Linked DNA regions of Homo sapiens. The protein of the gene in region 1 purifies or fractionates together with the protein of each later gene. This does not show direct contact. Each region holds a gene or a part of one and is shown in the gene's direction. Other genes may lie near its edges. The genes, in order: MESP2, SLC25A15 and ACSL1.

Region 1 (4,236 bases):
GACGATAGACCAAGTCTGTTTCAAAAACAAAAAAAAGAGAATAAATAAATAAATATGAATTAAATGAATAAAGTCCATTAGTGCCTTGAAATCTAAGTACTTTCCTTTTATTTTATTTATTTATTTATTTATTTACTTATTTATTTATTTTTGAGACGGAGTCTCGCACTCGCCCAGGCTGGAGTGCAGTGGCACGATCTCAGCTCACTGCAACCTCCGCCTCCCGGGTTCAAGCGATTCTCCTGCCTCAGCCTCCCGAGTAGCTGGGATTACAGGTGCCTGCCACCACACTCGGCTGGTTTTTGTATTTTTAGTAGAGACAGGGTTTCAGCATGTTGGCCAGGCTGGTCTCGAACTTATGACCTCAGGTGATCCATCCACCTCGGCCTCCCAAAGTGCTGGGATTACAGGCATCAGCCACCATGCCTGGCCAGTACCTTCTTTATAAAACGATCATGGCAAACCTTCAGCTCACTTGCCAGGGCCTAAGTGCTTTACAGGGATCGCTGTACTTAGTCCAGGAACCATCCTAGGCATAGGTATTTTGTATCACTATTGGTACCGATGAGGGAATCTGAGGCTCAGAGGAGCTAAATAACTTAACCAAGGTCACAGCCAATAAAGAGGCCGGCTTGGGGACCCATTTTCGCCGGTTTTCATCACCTAGGGTACCCAACTCCTCTTCCCCAACCTAATCTATTCCATTTCTCAAGAGTAGATACAGACCATGGGCAGTGAGATGCCTTTCTTGGTGTGTCACTCAACAAATCAGAAACTGTGGATTTTGGGGACCCCAGAAGGGCCCACCTGCACTTCTTCCTCAGCCACCATGGGCAGGGCCCTCCGGGCTTGTCTTGATGCCTTATTTAATACAACAGTAGGCACAGCGTCCTGGGCACAGACCTCCGGGAGGTTAGTGATGAGAGAGGCACCCACTCCTCACGGGGTCCCTGAGGCACCCACAGACCATGGCACTACCCGCCTCTGTTGGGCTCCCGGGCACTCACCGTGAGCAGTGGACGGGGCAGGGGCGTGGGTGGGAGCGTGGTGAGAAGCTTAGCAGCTCCATCCAGATGCGAATTGTCCCTCCCATACTTCCCGGGCTGCAGGGGCCTCCATTTAGAGCCCCCAAGGAGTCAGAATCCACACCTCCGCAAATGGGCCCGCTTTCCCAGGGGCCCCCTGCCCAGACTTTCCCTGGGCTCTGTGGGTTTTGACACCTCTCTGCAACCTGGCGGGGGGCCACCTCGCACCTTTGGTCAACATAAAAGCTCAGGCCTGGAGGTGGCCAACCCAGCCTCCCAGAGCCTGCAGCCCGGCCATGGCCCAGTCGCCTCCTCCGCAGAGCCTCCTCGGCCACGACCACTGGATCTTCGCCCAGGGCTGGGGCTGGGCCGGCCACTGGGACTCCACGTCCCCGGCCTCCTCCTCCGATTCGTCGGGTTCGTGCCCCTGCGACGGCGCCCGCGGACTCCCGCAGCCACAGCCTCCGAGCTGCAGCTCCCGAGCCGCAGAGGCAGCCGCGACGACGCCCAGACGAGCGCGCACCGGACCAGCGGGCGGACAGCGGCAGAGCGCCAGCGAGCGGGAGAAACTGCGCATGCGCACGCTGGCCCGCGCCCTGCACGAGTTGCGCCGCTTTCTGCCTCCCTCCTTGGCGCCGGCCGGCCAGAGCCTGACCAAGATCGAGACGCTGCGCCTGGCCATCCGCTACATCGGCCACCTATCGGCCGTGCTGGGTCTCAGCGAGGAGAGTCTGCAGTGCCGGCGCAGGCAGCGCGGGGACGCGGGGTCCCCTTGGGGCTGCCCGCTGTGCCCCGACCGTGGCCCCGCAGAGGCGCAGACGCAGGCGGAGGGGCAGGGGCAAGGGCAGGGGCAGGGGCAGGGGCAAGGGCAGGGGCAAGGACAGGGGCAAGGACAGGGGCAAGGGCAGGGGCGCAGGCCGGGCCTGGTCTCCGCCGTCCTCGCCGAGGCGTCCTGGGGATCCCCGTCCGCCTGCCCCGGAGCCCAAGCCGCACCCGAGCGCCTGGGGAGGGGGGTCCACGACACGGATCCCTGGGCAACACCCCCTTACTGCCCCAAGATACAGTCGCCCCCGTATTCGTCCCAAGGGACAACCTCCGACGCGTCTCTTTGGACGCCACCCCAAGGCTGTCCCTGGACGCAGTCGTCCCCAGAGCCCCGGAACCCACCAGTGCCCTGGACGGCGGCCCCAGCAACTTTGGAGCTGGCCGCAGTGTACCAGGTATGTGTGGAGGCCCTTGCTGTGTTCCCCAGCCTCCAGTCTGCAGAGAATCTCGTACTTTTTCGATCCCAGCTTATCTACTCCAGGATTATCTAACGGAGGGGAGAATGGAAGGAACCCCCGGCTCCGTGGGAGAAGAGATGGGACCCTGGGAAGTTAAGGCCATCTCCACAGTCACCACAAGCAGTCTTCACAGCCATGGGAAAGAGGGGGAGCCCGCCGACTTTCTCAGAGGGTGGAAAGTAGCAGGGTGGGCGTGCTGGCTTCAAGTGCTATTAAGACTGCAGTGGGGGAAGGAAGTCCCAGGGTAAGGGCAGCATTTCCTGAGTAGATGGGCCTAGAGCTGGTGATTTCAAGTTTTCTTCAAGATTCGTTCATTCATGAGGCTCATGAATGACTCATCGTCCATAAAAAATCATATTAACCAAAATTTGTTGAACACTTTCTATGTGCCCATCATCATTCTTGGCACCTTACATGTATTATTCAGCCCCAGTAATGACCCTAGGAAGTAGGTATTATCAGCATCTCTATTTTACAGGTGAGAAAACTGAGACTAAAAGAAGCTACCTGAGTTCTCATTACTAGTGAGTAGCAGAACTGGGATTTAAGCCTTAGCAGAGTGTCTCCCGAGCCAGTCCTCTTAACCACTTGGCTTTGCTGCATTCATGGCACCAGGGCTGTCCGGATGCTGCCAGCCATACCATGGCAACCAGCCAGATTCAAGATCTCTGGATATCAGGGAGTAGCCCACTAACCAGGCTGCTCTCATCTCTCTTGCAGGGTCTCTCTGTGTCTCCAGAGCCCTGTCTGTCGCTGGGAGCTCCATCTCTCCTGCCCCACCCATCATGCCAGAGACTGCAGCCTCAGACCCCCGGGAGGTGCTGGAGCCACAGTGCAGAGGTGGTGCCCAACTCAGAGGACCAGGGACCGGGCGCCGCCTTCCAGCTCAGTGAAGCAAGCCCTCCCCAGAGCTCAGGCCTGCGGTTCAGTGGCTGCCCTGAACTTTGGCAAGAAGATCTGGAGGGGGCCCGCCTGGGCATCTTCTACTAAATGGCCTCGGCTTCCCTCTTTCCATCCAGGAATCAGTCCTGTAGCTTGGGTGCCTCCTTATTTGTTAATTAGTGGCTTTTCATGTTCTCCTTTAGCCAAGGCTCCCTTTTTCCAAGTGATGTCTTTCAGGGAAGCAGTGTTTGAAATAGATAGCGGGTACCTTCCCTGGATGGAGTCAGGGCGGGGGCACTGTCCTCCACTGCTAGACACCCCCAGAATGCCTGGCGCTCTGCAGAGCACAGTCTGAGCTGCTCTAAGAAGGGGTCTCCTTTACCCTAAAGGCAGCTGGGCAGGGACAGGTGGGAGAATGGGTGTAGGAGGCAGGCCCCAGGCTCTGCTTCTTGGTGACAGTTGGCCAGAGCCCTGTATGCTTTGATTTTTTTGTACTTAAAAAGAAAAAACACACACACACAACAAAAATTTGGTTTGGCCTTGTTTTTTGTTCATCAACCTGGGTTTTTCTTGCCTCTGGAAAAGGAAACATGTTTTCCTTCTGTGGGGAACAAGTTCTGCTGCTCTTTCCTTCTCTAATCCAGGCCTGCCAAGGTTTGGGTGGGCCCTCATTTGTCAGTTTGACCATATTTATTGCACTGGAGCTCCAGGGCCAAAAGCTCCACCTGGCTTGCTGTGCAAGGTAGCACAGGTGGGCTAAGCTTGGGCCTGCCCACTTGCCTCAGCCACATCACCACTGCCCTTTTGTGTTCTTCGGGTGCATTCCTGGTGACTGCTGGGGTGGGTGCATGCAGCTGTGGACAGACAGACAGGAGCCCCAAATGGGGAGACCACAGTCCCAGAGACCTGTCATTTAGGGCTCTTTCACAATGACATGAAATTTTCTTCAAAGAATACTGGGAGTGGTTCCTACGTGCTAGGCCCAGTGTATTAGTTTGCGAGGGCTGCCATACTAGAATGCCACGGGCTGAGTGCAGTGGCTTACG
Region 2 (3,647 bases), on another chromosome or scaffold:
CAAAAAAATAAAAATTAAAAAAAATCTACTGTTGTATGGTCACAATTTTACTGGTGCCTTATGTGGAAGAACATTTCCTTTTTTAAAAATAACTGCTTTCCTTTTATTTATGAAGTTATACATTGTCATCATATAAAACTTAGAAACCACATATGCACACCACAGAGGAGACCTGCTCATCATCCACCACTGAGAATGAACCGCCCTTCTGTTTCAGTTTTCTCCAGGAGAATGCTGTTCAGATGCAGCTGGCAGTGCTACCTCTCGTCAGCAGACATGCTGCACTGAAACTGTAGATGCTGCTTATGATCCAAGATTTAGCTTTTCTTTCATTAGCAAAAAGCAGAGTATTGGAAGAGGTTGTCTGAGCCAGATGAACTTGAGGAGTTTTAGGAAGGGTCGGAAATGTCTGCGAAGATGCAAGGGAACCCACCTTTCTCTGTCCAAATCTTCCCAAAACATCAGACTTTGCCTCTTTGTTGGTCTTGCCTTGGGTATTTATTATATAGAGACTAAACAGAATTTGGAAACCACTGGGATGTTTAGCTATCCCTGCTTTGAATGTTGATTTATTTTATACCACTTAAAATTATTATATAAGCTTCAAGATTGCAAAGGGCAGTCTTAGTTATTTCAGTAGGAGTTTGAAACCTGATTGCAGCTGCAGGTCCCACACAACTGAATTCGGTTTCTTGTGCACAGCACTGTTCTCTGGAGGTGCCTGGAGGTCTGAAGGTGTGCCCTTTTATAGACAGGAATTCCACCATGATGGGTAGAGCTTGTTTTTTAAAAAGGCTTGGGACTAGATACGATTGCCCAAGAAGACAGTGTAGACAGCGAGGAGGGCTGAGCATGAATGGGATGAGCCTCCAGCACAGAAAGGGCAGGCAGGAAGGCAGTAAAGAAACAAGCAGGGCACAAACCAGGAGAGTATGGCATGCCATGATGGAGACTGAACAGAAGCAAAAACTACAGGCAACTGTAGTTTTGTTCCCTGTTGAAGGAGAGACACTCTATTAGAGAAGACCTGGAATTCAGTTCAGTTTCCTTAGCAAAGGACAAAATGGGGAGAGAAGACAGGGAAACAGTAAGCAGCCACGTGAGATTCTGGGGAAGACCTGTGTCTTCTGAGCAAAGTAGCCCCTCCAGCCACAGGATAGACAGTGACTTCTGTCTTGCATGAGTGAAACCACTGGATCTGGCTCTGCCCGCCCCTCCACTTTCTTGCTTCCTTAGCCTGTGAACAAAGTGAAGGACAGGTAAGAGCATATTGCTTTTCTGCTGAGAACAATCTAATACCTTACAGCTGCATTTTCCCACACTGCTTTCAGAACATTGAATTGCTGGGTGTCCTTAAGAAAGGGTTGGGAAATTACGTCACAGTGTCTCTCTCGTGAAGAATCACTCTGGGTACATTTATTTCATATAGTGTATGTGTTATTTAGTTCATTAAAGATGCGTAAGGCTGGGCACAGTGGCTCACGCCTGTAGTCCCAGCACTTTGAGAGGCTGAGGTGGGCAGATTACTTGAGCCCAGGAGTTTGAGACCAACCTGAGCAACATGGCAAAACCCCGTCACTACAAAAAATACAAAACTTAGCTGAGTGTGGTAGCACATGTCTGTGGTCCCAGCTACCAGGGAGGCTGAGGTGGGAGGATTGCTTGAGCTCAGGAGGCAGAGGTTGCAGTGAGATGATGCCACTGCACTCCAGCCTGGGCAACAGAGCGAGACTGTGTCTCTCAAAAAAAAAAAAAAAAGAAAAGAAAAGAAACCATCCTGATTAACCTTGTCTAATCCAGCACTCATCTTTTTTGAGCTTGGGCCCGTTTTTTTTTTCCATCCTGAGGAACAGTGTTTGCCTCTTACCTGTTGGGGAAATGCTCTCTTAGAGTCTACAAAGCTCTGACATGTATATCATGTCTCTATAGCCCTCACCGTGATCCTGTGAGAAGAGCAAGGCAGATGTTACCTCTCTTAGGGATGGAAAACTGAGGTGCCGATGTTGACCTGCTCAAGGTCACCCCGCTAAGGACTTGAAATTGTGTCCTCTGAGCTCCTGCCCAGTCTCCTTTCCATCAGACCACAGTTGGGGGTCTGGAATATTTTATAAGGGTCAGTTCTAGAGAGAAGATTAATCAGGAGCAGTGAAAGGAAAGAACTGCTTGTGAGAGCCTGTGGTGAATTTCTGCAATCACATTGTAAATATTTGTCTGTTCCCGGTTTCAACATGACCCAGAATGTTCTAGTTTGACGTTTGGCTGGACAGGGTCTTACATAGCAGGAGTGCTCAGGTACATGTTTGTTGAACATATGACAAATGGATGATTCTTACAAAATCCCATCCTATACCTATTACTGTTTCAATTCCAGTTCTACACATTCATACTACATGCAGAACCAGGGGCCCATGCACCTCCTTCTGTGCACTGGTCAATGAAAGTATTTATTGGAAAGCCAAAGTCCACTGCATATCTGATTTGACTGTGTCCTTGCACTATAATAATGTGCTTGGTGTTCATTCAGATGTCTGAGCCATTATTATATCTTAAACTCAATAGACTTCTACATTTATTGACTGCCACCTTTGTCCTGGCAAACTTGGCAGATCCTGGTTAATGCTCCTAATTGACTATTGCCTGTCAACAGGTTAACAGAGAGTCCCTGAGGGAGGCCAACTGTGGATCTGCAGGCTGGCTGCAAGACAACAGAAACCATTTTAAGCTTCAGTTCTAACAAGCTGCTAAGGAGTGAAGTGGGGGAAAGGAGTGGACTGAACAGCATTGGATGGTTTCCACACCCCATAAAAGCGTGTGCAAGTACATTTGTGTACCTGGTTCTCCTTTGCTAATGGTTTTAGGCTTAATTCTCTAACATCAAAAGGAAGTCCTTACTGCAAACAGTGTCTTCCTACTGAAAGAAAGCTCCACTCTAAGCCAAGTCTTCTGAAAGAGTTGCCTCTGGCCATGGTACAGAAGCTAGACCACCAGGGACTAGCAAACCAGGGCCAAGACTGGTGCCACCTTGATTTTATACTAATCTTTAACACTGGAAAAACTTGAGTACCCCTGAATATGGTAAGTCCATCTGTGCTTTTTTTTTTTTTTTGAGACGGAGTCTCACTCTGTCGCCCAGGCTGGAGTGCAGTGGCGCAATCTTAACTCATTGCAACCTCGCCTCCCCAGTTCAAGCAATTCTCCTGCCTCAGCCTCCCGAGTAGCTGGGACTACAGGCGCCCACCACCATGCCCAGCTAATTTTTGTATTTTAGTAGAGATGGGGTTTCACCATGTTGGCCAGGATGGTCTTGATCTCTTGACCTCGTGATCTGCCCACCTCGGCCTCCCAAAGTGCTGGGATTACAGGTGTGAGCCACCGTGCCCTGCCCCATCTGTGCTTTTGCTCACAGTTTGGAGAAAAATTGTTAGGGGATTATATCTCTACCTGAGTAGTTAGCTGAGGAGATTCCCACCCACCCTTAGGGGTTTTTGGAAATCTCTGAGGGTGATCTTGGCTGTCCAGTGAGAGCATGATGCTGGCATTGAATGGGTGTCAGGGAACCAGTTCAGTCCTTCCTGCCCAATGAAGGATTGTCCTACCCCCAAATGCCAGTCATGATCCCATGACACAACACTCTTCTAGGGCTGGAA
Region 3 (3,647 bases), on another chromosome or scaffold:
TTGACACTGGGGCCTGGAGAAGAATTCTCAGTGGCCAGAGCTGATCTGAAGCTGCAGGCAGTTGAGTTTGAGTTTCAACATGTTGGTACTTCAAGGGGCTTCTGAAAAGTTTTAAAGGAGCACAAGCCCTGAAGGAGTAGCTGAACTTAGTGAACTGGAGAAGGCAGGGGCAGTTTTACCAGGGTTTGTGGCAGCGACTCTAAGATTGTCATTTTACATCAAATGCTGAATGTCAATGCATAAGAAATTTCAGTTTGTGGCAAGCCTTGGGTTGTATATAATGGCAAGAAGAGAAAACTATCACATAATCTGAGTTATGTTCATTTTCTACATCATGACATTTTCACTTTCTTTTTTTTTTCTTTTTTCCCAGATAAGGTCTCACTCTGTCGCCCAGGTTGGAGTACAGGCATGATCATGGCTCGTTGCAGCCTCTCCACCTCCCTGGGCTCAGTTGATCCTCCCACTTCAGCCTCTCCAGTAGCTTAGACTACAGGCGCACATCACTATGCCCAGCTAATTTTTGTATTTTTTTCGTAGTGAAGCGGTTTTGCCATATTGCCCAGTTGTCTCGAACTCCTGGGCTCAAGCGATTTGCCCTCCTTGGCCTCCCCAAAGTGCTAGGATTACAGGCGTGAGCCACTGCACCCAGCCCACTTTCATGTTCTTGACTGTGTTAGAAACAACACAGTATTGATTCACTTATGACCTTTGAGGAATCAAGAGGGGCGGGTGAAATATTGGAGACTCCTTGAAGTGTGGCTGGCTTGGAGGGTGTCACCCTTGGACAAAAACTTAAGTGGAGGTGAGTAAGGGCCCTGCTCCCCTGTGCTGCCTGCCTTAGAAGGATGTGATCATCTGGAGGCAAATAGCTTGTTGCTTGAGGCCAGGAGTTCAAGACCAGCCTGGGCAACAGAGCAAGACCCCATCTCTAGAAAAAAAAAAGTAAAAACAATAAAATAAAATCTCAAAACTGGTGGTTCCATATAGGTGCCTGGGCTGATTCTCTTTATGAATTATTTGCTGGTCTTCAAGTTTAAATAAAATTCTGAAAGCTGTCTAATATCTAAAAACCACTTGCCACAGAAAAGCTGTATTTGTTTTTCATATTTTAAGAGTCATACATACTTACTGGAGAAAATTTGGGAAATAGGAAAAATGAAGCTCTTCCAGAGATTAAATACTATTAACATTTTGTTATATTTCCTTCCAGTCTTTTTTCCCTATACAATAAACAAATTTTAAGCATACATTGTTAATTAAAGATTACAATTTTGACAATTTAACTTTATCACCTAAGTTATATTGTGGGCTTTTTTACACGTTGTTACATATTCTTCAAAAAATAAGTTCTGAAGATGACTGCATTATTTGCTGTATGGGCCATAATTTAGTTACTTCTCCCCATTTGTTGGATATTTTTCAGAACAGTTTACCAACCTTTGTTATATGTTTAAATACGTCTTTAAAAAATAAAAAATGTTCTGCTTTAAAACTCTTGAAATTAACAATAATTTGAAAAGTGTTTTTACTAATGAATAGGTTTAATGGACTTTTGGGTTCATGTATTCTAGTCAAAAGCAGTTGAAATAGGGATTTCATGGTTTGGAAAGAGAAATGGAAAGAAGTTAGGGCATCAGAGGAGGAAACGGGGCCTGCCTGTAGACCATTTCCTCATTCTGGAGGGGACTTCTGATAAATGTAGGCTCTATCCATTAGCACAGCTTTGGCTGCTATAGAAATGGGCACTTTCCCCTTAGGTTTGTTGTGGGAGAAATGTCCATATAAGAAGGACTGAAACACTCTGAATACTATTTATTCCTTTATTAAGCAGAGTCATGAGAAAGTGCTTCCGGAGCTAGTTTCTCCTTCAGGGTCCAGGTGTCTGCCACAAAGCAGGGCTGTGGTAGCTGACCGAGGTGGTAGCCACAGCCTGGACACGGCCAGGCTTAGGAACAGAGCAGTGATGAGAGCAGCAGACAGAGCCAGGTGCTGCTAAGCTTCTGATGGGTTAACTCATTAGTACCTTCAGCAACCCTGTAAGGTAGGTCCTGCTGCTATCCTTACTGTACACAAGATAAAGGAACAGGTGCAAAGATTAAGTTCCCCATACCAGAATTTGAACCTAGGCAGTCTGGCTTCAGGGTCTGTGCTCCTAATTGCTGGGCTCTACTGCCCCTCCAGAGCTAGAAGTTCTCACTCCAGGAGGGCCTAGAAAGTTCCAGGTTAGGCCAGGTGCGGTGGCTCACGCCTGTAATCCCAGCATTTTGGGAGGCCGAGGCGGGTGGATCACCCTGACCAATATGGTGAAACCCCGTCTCTACTAAAAATACAAAAATTAACTGGGCGTGGTGGTACGTGCCTGTAGTCTCAGCTGCTCGGGAGGTTGAGGCAGGAGAATCGCATGAACCCAGGAGGCGGAGGCTGCAGTGAGCCAAGATTGCGCCACAGCACTCCAGCCTGGGTGACAGAGTGAGACTCTGTCTCCAAAAGAAAAAAAAAGAAAGTTCCAGGTTATACAGCTGGCAGTAAGACAGGAAGGACAGAGCTGGGTCTCCTTCGGTGTCACTGCTCCTTGATTTTACCCCCATCTCATTTACACTCTGCCTTGAATTATCTCTTTATACCACTAGAGTGCTGAAAGAGACCACAAATTTTGATTCAGCGTGGCTCAGGGAGTGATAAGATCACTTGCTATGTAGCTGTGACTTTCTAGAGAATTAAAAAATAAAAGGCTTTGCCTGCCCTGGACATTGGTCTTGTAAGGCTGGAGAACAATTGAGACGCATGACTGGCCGGGTGCAGTGGCTCACGCCTGTAATCCCAGCACTTTGGGAGGCCGAGGTGGGCGGATCATGAGGTCAGGAGATCAAGACCATCCTGGCTAACACGGTGCAACCCTGTCTCTACTAAAAATACAAAAAATTAGCCAGGCATGGTGGTGGGCACCTGTAGTCCCAGCTACTTGGGAGTCTGCAGGGATCGGAGGGGGGTGACTTGGCCAAGGTAACACAACCTGCCTGACCCTCTGGCCATGCACACGTGTGGAGTTTGTTCCCGGGCCCTGTGCCTGTTCAAAGAATGGCTGGACGTCGGTATTGCCCTTGGTTTCTGCCCTGAAGTCCAGTCAGTCAGCAGTTCTGCTTATTCTGACCCTCTCTGTGCAGTATTACCCAACACACATGCATTTCCTCCTTGCCTTCTCAGTATTGCCATCGTGAACCAGAATTGTCACCTCCAATTTAAACAGTGAAGGCCTTTGTTAGGAAGAGGGGCAGGGTGCAGAGGGGGATGGTTGCTTTTTCTAAATCACAGCTCTGATCAAATCCCTCCTAAGCAGAAGCCTTCCAGGCTCCCCTCCATAAGGCTCCAGGTGTTTACTTACCTTGCCTGTCAGGGGCTTCTGCAGCTTGCTTCCTACCTGCTATCTCCACTCCTCTCCAAACCACCATATCCTGAGGCTTCTAGAAAGCAAACTCTGGCGGCATGGGGTTAATGGGTCTGTGTACCCAAGACACTGTACCTGGGTGCTGTCATCTGCCTGACTGACCTTCCTGTGTCCTGGTCCGATGGTGTCTTTGATCCTATAGCTAAGATCAAGACACTGAAAATCTCTAGACTCAAGTCTGTGCTTTTGCTGGGATAAA

The links.
Region 2: the proteins of MESP2 (region 1) and SLC25A15 purify together in Homo sapiens (affinity purification with mass spectrometry; one large-scale study listed by BioGRID and IntAct). This does not show direct contact.
Region 3: the proteins of MESP2 (region 1) and ACSL1 purify together in Homo sapiens (affinity purification with mass spectrometry; one large-scale study listed by BioGRID and IntAct). This does not show direct contact.

The regions. Positions count from the first base shown.
Region 1 is NC_000015.10:89,775,037-89,779,272, forward strand, and holds MESP2 (mesoderm posterior protein 2), read left to right. Parts: upstream 1-1,295; 5' UTR 1,296-1,321; coding exon 1,322-2,245; intron 2,246-3,028; coding exon 3,029-3,298; 3' UTR 3,299-3,718; downstream 3,719-4,236. UniProt on the Homo sapiens protein: Transcription factor with important role in somitogenesis. Defines the rostrocaudal patterning of the somite by participating in distinct Notch pathways. Also regulates the FGF signaling pathway. Specifies the rostral half of the somites.
Region 2 is NC_000013.11:40,799,488-40,803,134, forward strand, and holds part of SLC25A15 (mitochondrial ornithine transporter 1), read left to right. Parts: exon of another isoform or gene 1-1,237; intron 1,238-3,647.
Region 3 is NC_000004.12:184,819,463-184,823,109, reverse strand, and holds part of ACSL1 (long-chain-fatty-acid--CoA ligase 1), read left to right. Parts: intron 1-3,647. UniProt on the Homo sapiens protein: Catalyzes the conversion of long-chain fatty acids to their active form acyl-CoAs for both synthesis of cellular lipids, and degradation via beta-oxidation. Preferentially uses palmitoleate, oleate and linoleate.